Regions from separate parts of the Homo sapiens genome. Here region 2 is linked to region 1. The links come from fine-mapping of genetic effects on gene expression. A gene starts in region 1. The other region holds a variant in brackets. All regions are shown on one strand. Distances are between the middles of the regions.

Region 1 (8,347 bases):
AAGCCAAGAATTTCAAATAGAAGTCTAAATTTTCGTTGTTATTATCTAAGACATGGATTTTTGCAAATCGGCAGTCATCTCCCTTTCTTTAGAGAAGGCAACAATATCACAAATAAAGATACCAAGAAGACAGAGACTGTGTCAGATGTAAATCAAATGCTGATATTTGAGAAGCTGCAGCATCATCTCTTCCAAGGGGATTTACAAAATGAAGTGATGTTCAGTGTGATTTGAGGGGCCTCCCTAGGTATTTTCTTCCTTCTCCTTTCCAGTTCTTATTTAAGGTTTCATTCTTCTAGAAGCCTCATCCTGGCCTCCACCTTCACTGTCTGTTTCTGCCTACAACTTTCCTTCCACACAGGAACTGAAGCAACCACACTGAAGAACAACTTCAATCAAGTACATTTTCAACAAAAAAACTTTCAGCTGCTCGCATGACATTCATTTTAAAGACCACATGGTTGAGCATGACCTTCAATCCTATCCATTCTACCTCATCTTACTTTTCCACTCACAGACAATATTCCCCATCACATGCCCAATACTTCTGCCTCAAATGCTTGCCTTCAGTTGCTGTGTGGGGTCCTTCCTGGGACATTCCTTATACTTACGAACCTCTGTACCTTGGGCCACTTGTGATCCTGTGCTAAGATACTGACTATTCTACCATCCATCTTTTCATATGGACTTCAGTACCATATAACCCCTTCACCTGGTTTGATTCTCTATGCTGAAAATGAACTCTCAACCATAGTACAAAGTATTTCTAACAGGGTTTTTTGAAAATATATCACTTGGCCAAATGATTTTTTTTAAGTAAATTTCAGTTGATTTCACTGCTGCTCGCTTCAATATAAATGAAAAAAGAAAAAAAAAAAACACCACATAGTTCATTCACATACATTTGGGTAGAAATCTCAGCTCTGTCCCTTAACTCACAAAGAAATAAGATAACTGAGGTCTTTGAACCGGCTAAATGAGTCCAATAGTGCCAATCTTATTAGAATTAAGTGAGATGTACTTTACTACTTGGTTCATATCAGTTGCTCAACAAATTTAAGTTCCTTTCTTATTTGTTCATCTTTACATCCCCCACATACTCTTGAATATTAGGTGCTCATTTAATGCTTCTTTTATTACAGAGGATTGGATATTTGTTTCCCATGTAGGTGGGAGTGAATAGAGGGTAATTCTATATAGGCTAACTCCTACAAAGATGGCGGGGGCCCATTATATTGAATATTTCTTAAGCTTTTAAAAAAGTATCTCCATAGTGTATTCTGTTGATAACTGGTTGTCAACTTACAGTATATACTTCTTTCCTAACAATGTGTTATTTTACAATACATACAAATATAAATTCATAGAATAAATAATTATAATCAAAGCTAGTAACAACAAAAGAAACCTCTAAATAGTCAATATTAAATGTCATTTAAAAAAGAACAAACTTTGTGTGTTCTAAGAGGCTACCCATATTTTTTATTTTAAAGGTTATTAAAAAAAACTATCAAACTGGCCATCTAAACAAAGGCGCACCCTCCTTTGATGACAATTTTAGAATTATCCACTTCAGGAATTATTCACAGCATATTTGTAATTCCCAACTGGACTCTCCTTGCCTGCCAGCACTCTTGGGCTGCATTCTGCCTGTACTCAGGAAACACAGTCATTTCTACATTAGGCAAAGTGAAATATAATTACAAATGTATGTCTCCTGCCAAAAGTTCATAATGCATGCCGAAAACAAATAGACACTGCCTACGGTTGATCTACTGTTTGGGTTTTCCACACTGCGTTCCCCTTGCGTTAGCACAGATGAATTCAGGTAACCAGATTCTACTTAAGAACAGTGACATTTTAATCTTTAAAAATGAAAACCCTCAAAATATTAGCCATTATTTCAATTTAAGCTCAAAATCCCCTAAACCAGCAGTCATCTGTGAAGCATTTTTTTCTTCTTCTTCTTGAGATGGAGTCTTGCTCCGTTCCCCAGGCTGAAGTGCGGTGACACAATCTCGGCTCACTGCAACCCCCACCTCCCAGGTTCAAGAGAGTCTCCTGCCTCAGCCTCCCAAGTAGGTGGGACTACAGGTGCCTGCCACCACGCCTGGCTAATTTTTTGTATTTTTAGTAGAGACAGGGTTTCACCTTGTTAGCTAGGATGGTCTCAATCTCCTGACCTCGTGATCTGCCCGCCTCGGCCTCCCAAAGTGCTGGGATTACAGGCGTGAGCCACCGCACCCGACCCTGTGAAGCGATTTTAACATGACACATGTCAAGCATGATAACCTGCTTGATTTGAACTCACTGCTTTTTCACTTCTTCAGAAATCTTACCTAAATGCTTTCAGAGTGACCCTTTCCAAACAGTGTCATTTTCCAAACGGGCCACTTCACAAAATAAAAGAAAACCAGGTGGGTTGAATGATTTTCCTTTGCATTTAGAAAATTCTTGAGTTTTTTAACCCTTGTACCATATCAAAAACTAGATCAAAGGTCTGATAAATGTCATATTTACCATCTCAAAAGATACAGCCAGTTCTCTTTTTTATATTGTAAAAAGGCCATGTCTCCATCTGGGCATTTGTTCCCACTCTTTTATTCCCCTGCGCCTACCCTTGATATTCACTGCCTTCTCCCGTTGGCACCTCAGCCTCTACAATGATACAACAAAATACAGATGTTTCCTCTTGCCCTGATAACAAGAGAAACTTCCCAGAGCAGCAAACGAGATCTCTAAATCTCCAAGCAATATGAACTTTCAAGCAACTCCTCCCCAAACGGCAAATCCAAGGGAGAAAGTGGGAGACAGAGATGGGCAGTTCTGCAGCTTTAATCAAAGTCTCCGTGCACTGCAGTTTCAAAGGGCAGGCATCCGTACCCAGAAAGAATAAGATCTTTAAAAAGAGGCTTTCTCTTTCATTTTTATGATATGCAAATACTCAGAGTTTATTCTGCCTCCTCAAAATGAAAACCTGTACAAAGTCGTAATTTGGCTCCAAATGTTGACTAGGTGATGTGGAGTAGTGCATTATCATGAAAAATTGTTCTCTGGAAAAGGATGACTTCCTGCCGGACTGACCATCACTCTTGCCTCTTCAGACCAGACCCTCTCTTTAGCTTTAAACTTGTCCAAAGCAGCCAAGTTCAGCCAGTATTAGCACTTCCTCCCTATCTCATAATCCACAACTATTAGGCTAAGTGGGACGGGGCTTGGGTTGGAGGTGGAGGGGAGTTGAGGGAAAGTTAATTATCATTTTAAATGCTATTCAAACAACAACAAAAAAGAATGTCAAAAAAAGCATAATGAGAGCTTTTAGAAACCTATACTACATACTGAGTTCAGAAAGGATGCTGGGAATAGGGTAAAAAGAGGGTGTTAAAAGGAATAGGGAAGGTTAGCAGGAGAGTTAAATACTAATACTAATAATGAAGAAGAAGAAGGGAACTAACCTGCATAGGGGATGGCGATGGGGAGCAGGAGGAGATGCAGGAGGACATGCTGCAGCAGCAGGGCTGGCAGGAGTTTGGTCACCCACATGGTGCTGCTGGACGGGCTGGCGGATCCCTCTGGAGGAGATGCCTGGGTGAAAGAATCCTGTTCGGAGTCAGTGCCTAAAAGAGCCAGTCGGCTCTGAGCTGCTTTTTATTGCGATGAGCTAAGTTTGTTGTGTGATTAACTGGAAAGATCTAGGTCTGAACTCCCTCTTACGGTAAGAAACTGTTTAACAACAGCCCTTTACTCTCTTCCAGCCCCCTCCTTTCCTCACTCGCCCCCCCTTCAACAGCACCAAACAGATCCCTGCAACCCCCCCCATTCCCCGCCTCCCCCCAACCCCACGCTTAGGAAAGAAACTTACAAAGAAAAGGTCACCTGGCCTGAGGCCAGCTTCAATTTGGAAGCTGGAGCTCCAGATCCCAGTGGCTCCTATCCGAGTAAGGAAGGGAGGAGCAAGGCTGAGCCCAATGGCTAAATCAAGGCACAGGCAGGGGACCAATTCGCTCAATTTAAACAGGAAAATACATGTGTTTATATATCTATTTGGGAAAAGAGGAAGGGGAAGCAGCATAAGAAGAAAGCGAAGAGCTGTCTTTCAGCCAAATGTGCCCCAGCTCCTAATCTGTCTAGTTTTCCTGCTAGAGCAACTGAGGGATTCAAAACACTGACACAGGTTCTCTAGGGGTTTAGAGACCTGGGAGAGGTGGGAGCGGGGCCAGGGAGGAGAGCCCAGGCACGTCCAGCCCAGGTAGAAAGAGGTTAGTTAAGAAAAGGGTGTGGTATTGTGGGGCCAAAATAAGCAAGCAAAACAAAAGCACGCAGATTGTCAGATGAAAAAATTGCCCCTGCCCCATGGGCTCAGAGCAGGCAGCTTTTTTTTTTTTTTTTTTTTTTTTTTTTTTTCACAAACTGCCAAACTCACGAAATACCACACATTTACCCAAAGTATACAAAATAAACTTGTCTGATCTGACTTTTTAAGAGAAAGTCCAAGAAACAGTCATTGTCCATAGCCTGTCCCTGACAGGTAAATATGCCATGTGGACTTGTACAGGCACACACGTGCACACAACACATTCACACATGTTGGTGTGTATGTACGTATACACTGGTTAGGACTGACTTTCACCGGAAATCCCTCAAGCTGTTTGAATTCGTGAGTACTGAATATGCCTCTCTTTTCCAGCTTCATCTGCCTGTACACGACAGCCAGCTTCCCAAAGTGTAAGTGGAAAGATGAGGAGCTTGTATGGGCATGGGGGGACTCCTAGGTATCAAATCCTTGTGAGATCATTGCCCAGACCCCTCACTTGATTCAGAGAATTTGTCTTTGCACCCAGAGGTGGATGCTCTGGTAACTTTAAGCAAGAGCCTGCTTTATTTCTAATGGATGCTGAGGGATACTTGCCCCTGTATCTCTCTGAGATGGATATTAGTAGAGAACAGTGCCCCTGTCCACAGAGGAAAAGAAAGCAGGCCAAATGTGGGAATGACTAGAGCGGTGGGTAGCTGTACAGAAGTGATTGTGGGGCTGAATTAAACTCATCCACAGAACAGCCTTCCCTCCACATACCACCTTCATTTGTCCTCCAGCTCCCTTACCCCCACTTTCAGGGAAAAACAACCTGCCTGATAAGTCCCTGAGGTTGTGGGATATCTAGAGAAGCTAGGGATTAAGAGAATTCCTTTTGAGGGATCTATTTTATATGACCCGTTTCTATTGCTAATCCTTCTCTTTTATCATTTTCTCCTTACTTAAAAATCATTTGTCAGCCTCTGTCTGGTGTCCCCAGGATCCATTTTACTTTCTTTTTACTGTTCAGTAGACTTTTTGGGAAATCTCAGTTCAATGCATAGCCTGACCGTGACCCTGAATTGCTCCACTGCATCTCTTGTGCTTTATTAGGGTGTAGGGGCTCAGAAAAATGATACCCCAAATGAAGACCTCAGAATCAGCTCTCTCTGACCTTCTCCTGCTCTCCAGTCTCCGGCCCTTCATTCTCCCCCAAGGCGAGGCATAGAAACTAGAATCCCTCTTTCCCAAGGTGGCTCCTAGAAACCAGAACCCTTTTTCCCAAACCAGCCATAAAACCTAAGCATATCACTCTAACACCTCAACTTTCTGTGTGAAATCTGGCCATAAAGACATTATCTGACCTACCTTGTTTGATCGTAGCTCATAAGACCCCATTCCAAAGAAGGTCCTGCCCCATACCCAGAAGGAATGAGTACTGCACAGAGATACCAGGAAGAATCTCACCTTGCCAGGCGTCCCCACTCAGTCTGTTAGCATGAGATCATATTCCTTTTGTCCAGTTGTATTTCTCCACACCTGCCCACACTTTGTTGAACCTAAGCATAAAAATGGACAATTTCTTTTGTAACTTTGGGTCTTTGTTCTAAAGGCTCTCGGGTTGTGTAAAATTATGATCAAATAAATGTGTATGCCTTTTCTTCTATTGATCTGCCTCTTGACAGTAATTTTTTTTTTAGCAAACCTTCAGAGAACAATGGAAAAGTTTTCCCTTGGCCCAACAAGGGATTAAGGCTGTTTTTAAAAGAAGTTAGATTTTTCTGTAAGTAAATTCCTGTAGGTAAGGAAAGAAAAAGAACAGTGTTTCTATTTATTTTTTTCTCTCAGAAAAAAAAACTAGAGTCAGGGTTGTAAATTATTGTTATAAGTTTGGAGCAAAATCCATCTGAGATAAGGGGTTCAGGACATTAGAAAACTGAATAAACTTATTAGGTCACACATTTTCGTGACTTTTTTTACTGTCACATTAAATATGGTAAATACAACTTAAAACCTATATAATTTATATATTCATATTTCTTGACAAAAATTATTTGGTCTTTCTTTACTGAAATTGTTGCTAATATACACTGAGATCTTAATGTATGCTAAGCATCATATTACATACTATTGAAAATTATTTCATCCTTACAGTAAGTTTAAGATTATTAAAATTCTCATTTTATAGTTGAGGAAACATAGTAAGTTATTTTTATTCTTAAATAACTTGCCTAAGATCCCAAAGTAATATTCAAGTGTGAGATTCAGATTAGTCATACCCCATAGGATGGTATAAATTTTTTTAACCCCACGAGGAGAAGAATCACATGTTCCAGAGTATAATCACCAAAATAAGTCTGAGACTGGGTATATAGGAGATCCTCCATAATAATTTATAAAATAATACATAATTTTAAATCTCTCAAAACTATAAAGAAATACTCAAATGAAATTCTAATTATGCTATTAGTTTAGTCATTTTGATAACATATTCTCTTTGTTTTTTCTAAATCATGCAATGTTTTTTTCCCATCATCTACTGATTGCCTTACATAGGCATACATCATTTTATTGCCCTTCACTTTATTGTACTTCACAGATAATGTGTTTTTACAAATTAAGTTTTGTGGTGTCCTCGAATTGAGCAAGTCTGTTGGTGCCGTTTTTCCCACAGCATGTGCTCACTTTGTGTCTCCGTGTCACATTTTGGTAATTCTTGCAATATTTCAAATATTTCCTTATTATTTTACATGATGATCTGTGATCAGTGATCTTTGATGTTACTGCCATAATTGTTTTGGGCACCACAAACCACAACCCAAACTTAATCCATTCATGTGTGTATTCTGACTACTCCACTGACGAGCTGTTCACCCGTCTCTCTCCCTCCCCTCAGGCTTCTCTATTTCCTAAAACACAACATTATTGAAATTAGGCCAATTGATAGCCCTGCAATGACCTCTAAGTACTCAAGTGAAAGGAAGAGTTGCGCGTCTCTTCCTTGAAATCAAAAGCTAGAAATAAATTAAGCTTTTGGGGAAAGGCATGCCCAAAGATGAGTTAGGTCAAAAGCCAGTCCTCTTGCACCAGTTATCCGAGTTGCAAATGCAAAAGAAAAGTTCTTGAAGCAAGTTAGAAGTGCTACTCCAGTGAACACACAAATGATAAGAGAGCAGAGCAGCCTTATTGCTGATATGCAGAAAATTTGAGCAGTCTAGATAGAAGATCAAACCAGCTGCAATATTCCCTTAAGCCTTAAGCCAAAGCCACAGCAAGGCTCTGAACATCAAGCAAGACCCTCCATCAGCAAAAAGATTATCACTCGCTGAAGGCTTATATGATCGTTAGCATTTTTTAACAATAAAGTATTTTTAAGTTAAGGTATGGACATTTTTAAACATAATGCTGTTGCACACTTAATAGTCTGCTGTGTAACTTTTATATGCACTGGGAAACGAAAAAAAAATTCATGTAACTTGCTTTATTGCGATTTTTGCTTGATCACAGTGGTCTGAAACCAAACGAGCAGTATCTCCAAGGTAAGCCAGTACTTCTTAAGTGTTAAACAGTTTGAATAAATCCCCAAAAAATTGTGTCTGAAAAGTTTTTGATAAAATAACTTGTAAAGAGATTACTTTAAGTACTGCAATTTATGTAAATACTTAAATACTAGATGGATACTCATTACCCTATAATACCATTTTAAATCTGTCCTATGATTGAGGGTTCTAGTATCTCATGGATACTAGATGGATTTAATGGAAAAGCCTCTATTACTGTGCTCTTTAAAAGGCTGCTGCTTTAACACGGTATCTTTCTTTGTCTTAAGCCCAGGTTTCTCCACAAGTGATGCTTGTAAGAACGTACGTGAGGAATAAGCTGACATGACCTTATGATCTGTAGATTACTAATGAGTTTTGTGTTATTGAACTGGTCATTTTGTTTACTAAACGCCTGTGATTACTAATGCGTTTTGTGTTCTTGAACTGTCATTTTGTTTATTAAATGCCTGTCACATGCCAGGTGCCATTCTGTTTCTGCTACCACTTGGAT
Region 2 (8,347 bases), 80 kb after region 1:
ATGTAATTGCTACAGCTGGAATCGCATTCCACTTCAGAAGCTTCTTAACAGCATTCTCAGATGTGTGAATATCCATTAGTGACCCAAGGGGATTACTCCCTGGCACCAAGTATACCTTTATGAGGGGTCTGGATGATGAGACTTTCCCCTCCCATCAGCAGAAAGTGAGGCGAGGCGAGGGGCTTGGATGTTGGTGAATACAAAAAGATAAATAAAATAAATAAACGTGTGGCAACACAGAATGCTTTTTAAAAAGAATTCAAAAGGAAAATTATAAATTTTGGCCATGGGGTACGTAAGTTGAATATTTATGTTGAGTAAATAGCTAACAAATTTATCAAAACATTCAAGGGCACTAAGGCTAAAGTAACATGACTTGATCTTCCTGTGTCTGTTTATGTGGATGGTAATTGACAGTAAGCAACACTGAACTTTCACTTCCTGTTCACTGCATCTAGGACAGACAATACTGGGAGGATGACTCAGTTGCTCCTGCAGCAACTGCCCTTTGAGGAAAAAGCTTCCTGATTTCACCATGTCTCTTTTAAAATACTTCTACTCTTCCTGCCCACCCCAACAGTTCTGCAGCTTCTCTTTTTGCAACAGTATCTCTAACCACTGTCCTCTAGATGTTATAGCAATCAGAAAGCCTCCCTTTCAGTTTTAAGAGTAAGGGGAAAATGTCTGTGAGTAGACGTACTCATTTTATAGAAGAGGTTCATGAATTTTCTTGCATAAGCCATGCCTGCGTTATTACATTTGCACAATCAGAGGGAAAGACTACTGCATGTTCAAGTAGTAGGTACAGTGAGAGGATCTGCAAAGAGATTAAAAGAGATCTGCTAGGGATTAAATTCTTATTAAATCCATGATATCAGCTAAGTGAGGAAGAAAGTTCATAGTAGAATCTTGGAAGTATCTGGCTACATTTTATATCCTTCACAATTCCTAGTACAAACTTTTGCTTCTCGTAACAATACATAATATGTAATATTTATGTAACAAATATAAGATGTAATAATATATAATTTAAAACTATTATATGTTTTGAATGAATATATGAATGAATGATTTAAGAATTATTTAATTAGAATTAGACATTTCCCAGGCCAACAGTAATGGTTTGTATGGTTCATGAACAGACGGGTATTCAGATTTCATCCATTAGAGAGCGTGTTTCACAATTCTAGCTCCACATTAGCATCACCTAGGGAGCTTTTAAAAAAATGTTGCCTGAGCCTCACCTTGAGAAATGCTGATTTAACTGTTCTGTGATGGGCCTAGCTTTGGGTGTTTATTAAAAGCTCCCCAAATAATTCTAATATGCGGCCAGCATTAAGCATCATTATGGTACCATCCCGTAGGTAGACTCTTAGAATGACTTGTGCACTGTGGGAAATGAAAATCTTTTGCTGATCTATTAGGGGGAGGAAAATATGAGAGAGAGAGAGAGAGAGAGAGAGAGAGAGAGAGAAGAAATACATATATTCCAATTATTCCACATTTTAACACATTTATTCAATAATTGGTAATATGTATTGAGTTCTTACTGAGTGTCACACACTCTAAGTATTGATGCTATAAATATTGAACATAAGCAGATATTGTGGAGCTTATAGTCTAATGAGAAGAAATAGACATGAATTAAATAAAACAGAAATGCCTATAAAATTGTAATTCTGACAAAGCCATCAAACAAAAATACATCATAGGGAAGGAGTTTTTCTATATTCCTTGAGAGGCATGGGTTTCCCAGTGAAGTGATATTTGAATTGAGAATCTAATTACTAGCAAAGATGAGAGAGTAAAGCGCTGTAAGACAGAGGACACTGCATGTGCAAGGGCCCTGAGCCTTCAGGGACTATTCGTTGTAAGAAAGTCAGTAAGGTTGTCACATAGAGATCAAGGGGAGGGTTAGTCTGATACATGCCTGAATACATGGATAAGAGACGTTTCATGCTTGTTGGCCATGTAATGTTAGTTGGTGGAACACATTAAGTCTCTTAATTATTATCCTAAAAGCAGAAGAAGTCAATAACAGATTTTAAGAAGAGGTGAGGTATTATCAAACTTGAATTTATAATAACAATCTATTGAAGAGATTGTATTGGGAGGAGACAAGAATGGACAAGGGAGGCTAATTTGCAAACTATCCAAGTAAGAGAAGATAGAAGCTTGGCTTATGGAGCTAGCAGATCAAATGGAGAGAGGTGGAAGAATTTTAAAGGGTGTTTTAAATATGCAATGTAATGGAGACGCAAAACTTAAAGAAGAGGACAACATTTAAGGAGAAGATGAGAAATATTTTTGTACATAGTAAGTTAGAGTTACTTTTTATTATCCAAATGGAAACATCAAGCAAGCTGTAGGTTTTATGGGTTTGGGGCTCAGTACAGAATTTTTAATTAGGAAATACAATTTTCGGAGTCATTTTCAAATAAAGCAGGTTAATGAATGCCATTGGATGAAGTTTTCTTTCAAGAAAGTACAGAGTTTGAAGAGAAGAGAACCTAGGTCCTGATCTTTAAAAAATATCCAGCATTTTGACCAGAAGGAAACCAGGAAAGCATGGTCTATCTTTACTTCATACTCTCCCCCTTTTATTTCCTCACATTTGTGCATTATGTTATAGAAGTTTCTATGCAGTTGGAATCAGTTGGAACCAAAACTTTGTCAATAATGTCTTTGCTCACAATCAACTGACTTCTCAAATTTTAGATTTGTATGAGTTTTTACAATAAAGATAAACTAAGAAAGACCAATCTGCTACTGAGAAAAATAGATTATTCAAAAGGGTGTGAGAGGTTTCAAATTGTGATGGTGTCCAAGATTATGTGAAAATTAATATGGATGAAGTCACTGGTGTTCTGGTAATTATGTAATAATTGGTTCTTCAAAATGTAATAAAAGGAAAATGGAATCTATTCAAGAGAACTGACTATAGTTAATGACAAAATACTATATATTTTGAAAATCACTGCAAGTGGATTTTAGGTATTCTCACCACAAAAAAAAATAAGTATGTGAGGTAACACTTATGTTAATGTATTAATCTGTTTCGTAAGGCTATCAAGAACTGCCCAAGACTGGGTAATTTATAAGGGAAAAAAGTTTAATTGACTCACAGTTCAGCATGGCTGGTGTGGCCTCAGGAAACCTACAATCATGGCAGAAGATGAAGGAGAAGCAAGGTACCTTCTTCACAAGGCAGCAGGAAGAAGAAGTGCCAACTTAAGGGGGAAGAGCCCCTTAAAAAACCATCAGATTTTGTGAGAACTCATTCACTATCACAAGAACAGCATGGGGGAACCACCTCCATGATCTAAATACTTCCACCTGGTCTCTCCCTTAACATGTGGAGATTGGGGATTATAATTCAAAATGAGATTTGGGTGGGGACACAAAGCCTATCCAAATCAATTAATTAGCTCAATGTAGTCATTTTACAAATATATGAATATCTCATCATTTTGCACACCACAAAAATATCTTATTTGTTAATTTAAAAATAAATAATTTTAAATGGTGTTTTTGATCCATAATTGTACATATTTATGGGGTAGAATGCGATGTTTTTATACATGCATACATTGTGTAAAAATCAAATCAGGATGTTTAGCATATCCATCACCTCATATATTTATCTATTTTTTGTGCTGAGAACTTTCAAAATCCTCTCTTCTAGCTCTTTTGAATTATGTAATGCAATGTACAGTATTA[T/C]ATAATCCTAGTCACATACTGTGCAATAGAACACCAGAACCTATTCCTTCTATCTAACTATAACTTTGTACCCATTGACTAATATCTCCCTATCTTGCCTGCACCCCTAACCTCCCCCAACTCTGGCAACAATTATTGTACTCTCTGCTTCTATGAGATCAACTTTTTTAGATTCCACATATGTGTAAATCATGCCATATTTGTCTTTTTGTGCCTGGTTTATTTCACTTAACATACTGTTCCTCAGGTTTATCCATGTTGCCACAAATGATAGAATTTCATTCTTTGTTATGGATGAATAGTATTCCATTGTGTATGTGTACCACATTTTCTTTTTCCATTCATCCAATGATGGACACACACTGATTCCATAACTTGCCTGTTGTGAATTGTGTTGCAATAAACATGGGAGTGTAGATGTCTCTTTGAAATATTGACTTCATTTCTTTAAAATATAAATAAATTTTAAAAAGAAACCAATGAATCAACATCAGATTTACAGTCATTCATCAGATAAAAAAGTTCATAATATAAAATAAAAATACATAATGCAAAATTCGTATGGTAAAAGCAAATACTATGAAGTTGCTTAAAAATGAAATGGATCTATCTGTGTGTATAGATGTATATTGTAAAAAAAAAAATAGTTACAGAATACTACATAGAGCTGTTTCTCAACATTGGCTCTCTTGACATTTAGGGCAGGATACGTCTTTGCTGTGGGGGTTGTCCTGTGCATTGCAGGGTGATTAGAATCATCCCTAACCTCTACCCACTAAATGCCAGTAAAACTATCCACCATCTCCATTTTTGGTTACAACTAAAAATGTCTCTATATATCACCAAATGTTCCCTGGGGACAAAATCACCTTTGGTTCAGAAACAGAAATAAAACATGATTTCGTTGATGTGCAAATAAAATATCTATTTATTTGTTTTGTACATATGTAAGTTTATTATTAACTGGGAGTCATCAGTACAGTTTAAAGTGCATACATGAGACAATATACCTGAGGAAGGGAATGTAATTATAGATAATGGGGGATATTGAAGAATAAAATTATTCTGGGGGAAAAAGAGAAATAAAAACTGATTTTTAATGATTTTCCATTTTCGTGGGGCTAAATACTCCCACCATGACCAATATCAGCTTCAGTGATGTCACTGAACCCAGTGTTTAGAATAGATTTGCAGACCTGGTTTTCAAAAGACATTTCAAGTCAGCTTTAGCCCACAACTGGATCTAATATATAAGATGATAAAATTAAACCTTGGGAGACCACCCAACTTCCATAAGCTCATAGTTCTAGCAAAGGAAACATCTGGAAAAGGATCTAGATCTTTCACGAGTCCTGTGCTCTATCTAATCACCATGCTAATAAAAGTAATATAGAACAGTGGTTCTCAAAGTCCTGAGACCAGCAGTCTCAGCAGCATTTGCGAAATTCTTAGAAATGCAAAGTCACAGGCTCCTCCTCAGAATTCCTGAATTTAAAAAATCTGGGGATATTCCCCAGCAGTGTATCTTTTAGCAAGCCCTCCAGGTGATTCTGATGAATACTAAAGTTAAAGAACCACAGGCACAGACAATAGTGATATCTTAAGTCACTTGATGCTTTGATGCTTTTTAAAGAATTATCATCCTGTCAGCTGTGCTTCCCATAAATGCTAATCCTAGTAACACAATAATACTGGTCTTTAGGAAGAGCAATCTGGCAGCTTTGTTAGATTTAACAAAGATAAATTGAAAATTTAGAAATGAGTTGTGGTTCTAATTTATTATGCTGACTGTGAAAAAAGAAAGAAATGGTCCCAATGTAGAACCTGTAGCAATGACATTTTAAATGAAGGATAACATACAGAAAGAAACTTAAAGTGCCTTCAAGGTTTAGTGCTTCAAAAAATTTAATTAAAAAAATCCTGTCCACAAATCTATCCTGCTTTGTCCTCAACTTGTTGCTATGGTTTCCCATCTTTTTCACACACTCAGAACTTTAGAAGTATATCACATATCGCACATATTCTCCCTACTAGTATTTTTTTCAGGCTCCCCATTAGAGGATACAGAGCTTTACTCATCCTTATATCCTCTGCAAAAACTGGCAGAATGTCTTTCACATAGTCAATAACTATAATAACTGAAATAAGAAATTCTTACGTAGGAATCATTTCAGAAAGGTGATTAAGTTAATATTTACTTTGATGTTTCAGAACAATGGGAGGCACCCAATGAAAATATTAAAAAAACAGATGGAGTTAACATACCTGGAATACTCACAGCCACATACAAACCTTCAAACAAGTTTCTGTCACAGCTTAGTTCAATCTGATACATTCTTAAATGAGCTTCCTTTGTTTCGGCCAACACATGTTCCATGTATGCCAGCCACTAATTTTAGTGCATCCCCCGCTTTGTTTGTAGTTCCTATAGTTTTGTTGTCCTAAAACTGATAAGCTTTTTATTTTGTATTCATTTAGAAGTCAACCTCAAATATGGAACCATTTTCATATTTAATACGTAGAATTATATATTGAAATGTATTTTTGAAATTTATTCTCTACTATTTCTCGCTCTTTAAAATATTTTAGCTAGATAGAAAAAATACATTTATCTTCACATTTATGTGTTACAGTGTGCATAGACTATTTTGCAGAGAATGAAATGGAAGTTTCTACTAAATTTAGTAAGTGAATATGCGTTCCTACATTCGTAGGTAAAACTATGTACATTTACTCTCAAAAAAAAGAAATAAAATAATTTTCTATATTCAGATACATATGAAATTACAGAAAAGGTGGTATATTTATTTGGGTAGTATTCCACTCTGTAAATTCTTCTACCCTAAAATATACTAAATTATACAGAGGTGGTAAGAAGGAGTGCAGATAATAGAATGAGATGCTTGTAATTGACTTAGTTTTGCCATTAGATCCATGACTTCAGAAATTTGTTTCATGTAGGTCTCAATCTAAAAAATACAGAGATAATAATAATGCCTACTATGAAGTGTTTTTCAAAAGACTAAAATATTGACCCAAGTACAGCAATTAGCACAGGACCTGAGTCAGAGTGCCTGTCTCAACATGTATTAGTTTATTATTAACTGCTATTATTATTGTTAATGCAACTTTTCTTCAGCAGCTATAGCAGCCCCTTCATCTAAACTTAGGTAAGAACATTCTAAGAAGTAAAAATGTAATTATTTGAAAATTAATCATATGAAGAAATTACTGCACTCATTTTAGTTGTCATAATCATATTATAGTTATGTTTTTGCTTAAAGAGTACTTGTCTTTTAGAGAGAGATCAAAGTATGTACAGATGAAATACTTTAATGTCTTGGATTTCCACAAATATACTCTGGATGGGAAGCAATAGATGAACAAAATTAGACAAACTGTTGAAATTAGAGTATATATACGTGTTTTATATTACTATTCACTCCACTTTTACATATATTTGAAAAAATGCTATATTAGTTCATTTCACACTGCTATAAAGATACTACCCAAGACTGGGTAATTTGTAAAAGAAAGGAGGTTGAATTGACTCACACCTGCAGATGGCTGCAGAAGCCTCAGGAAACTAGAGTCATGGTGGAAGGTGAAGGAGAAGCAAGGCACCTCTTACATCATGGTGGCAGGAAAGAGACAGGGAGAGAGAGAAAGATAAAGAGAGAGGAGAGTGCACACGAAGGGAGAAGAACCCCACACTTATCAAACAACCAGATCTCCTGAGAACTCTATACAAGAACAGCAAGGGAGAAGACCACTCCCATGATCCAATCATCTCCCACCAGGTCCCTCCCTTGACACATGGGGATTACAATTCAAGATGAGATTTGGGTGGGGAGACAGAGCCAAACTATATCAAATTCATAATTAAAATAACTAATAAGTGTAAACAAATAAAATACATTTTTTCTCTGCATTAATTATTTTTGCTAGTCTTTGAAAATCTGATTCTCAGCTGCCTAACCTGTATGCCCATGGCTTCAATGACTGCCAAAATACACAAAGTTCACAGGAAGGAAAATAAATGGTTGCTTCTGTAGCTACCACCTAGTAGCAAATAGGTGATTACCCCCCACCCACCCACCCACACACAATTAAAGGGGATTTTTATGGAAATCGAGTATGTTTTATATGAATGAAGTACATTTTTTGTAAATATGAGTGACAACAATACTTTTTTGTAGCTAAAAGATATGATGGCCTAGCAGATTTAGGACACTCTGTATAGCTGGGTGAAGCATATTGATACATTGGTAAGATGGCAAGGAATAAGGCAATTTCAGTATAAAGTTATATCAGAGTAACAAAAATATGCTAGCGGTGACCATATGAAGAATTTACCATGACTATTATAAAAGCAAATACAATTCCAAACTTTTGCAAATCTACCCTTGTGGAAAAGCTTTCTTAGTAACAGATGGGATTTTGGGAAATCAAAGGGGAAACATATGAATAACATTGAACTTTATTTAACCTAACCAAATCTCACATAATTGATATAAGGAAGTTTAAAAATCACCCCAGAATAAATAAATGCATGTCATAAATAAATGTACCATATATATGATCTTGAAATACATTTATGAGATACATTTACATATAAATATATCCC

Evidence for each region.
Region 2: its variant is fine-mapped to the expression of HGF in whole blood (TOPMed, PIP above 0.99).

The regions. Positions count from the first base shown.
Region 1 is chr7:81,766,429-81,774,775 of GRCh38, forward strand. HGF (hepatocyte growth factor) reads right to left here and starts at 3,619. Exons shown (of 18, transcript NM_000601.6): 1 at 3,456-3,619. The coding sequence starts at 3,543.
Region 2 is chr7:81,846,110-81,854,456 of GRCh38, forward strand. No RefSeq gene overlaps it. Among named protein-coding and RNA genes, the nearest start is that of HGF, 80 kb to the left of the region's middle. The variant T/C (reference allele first, on the strand shown) is at 3,721.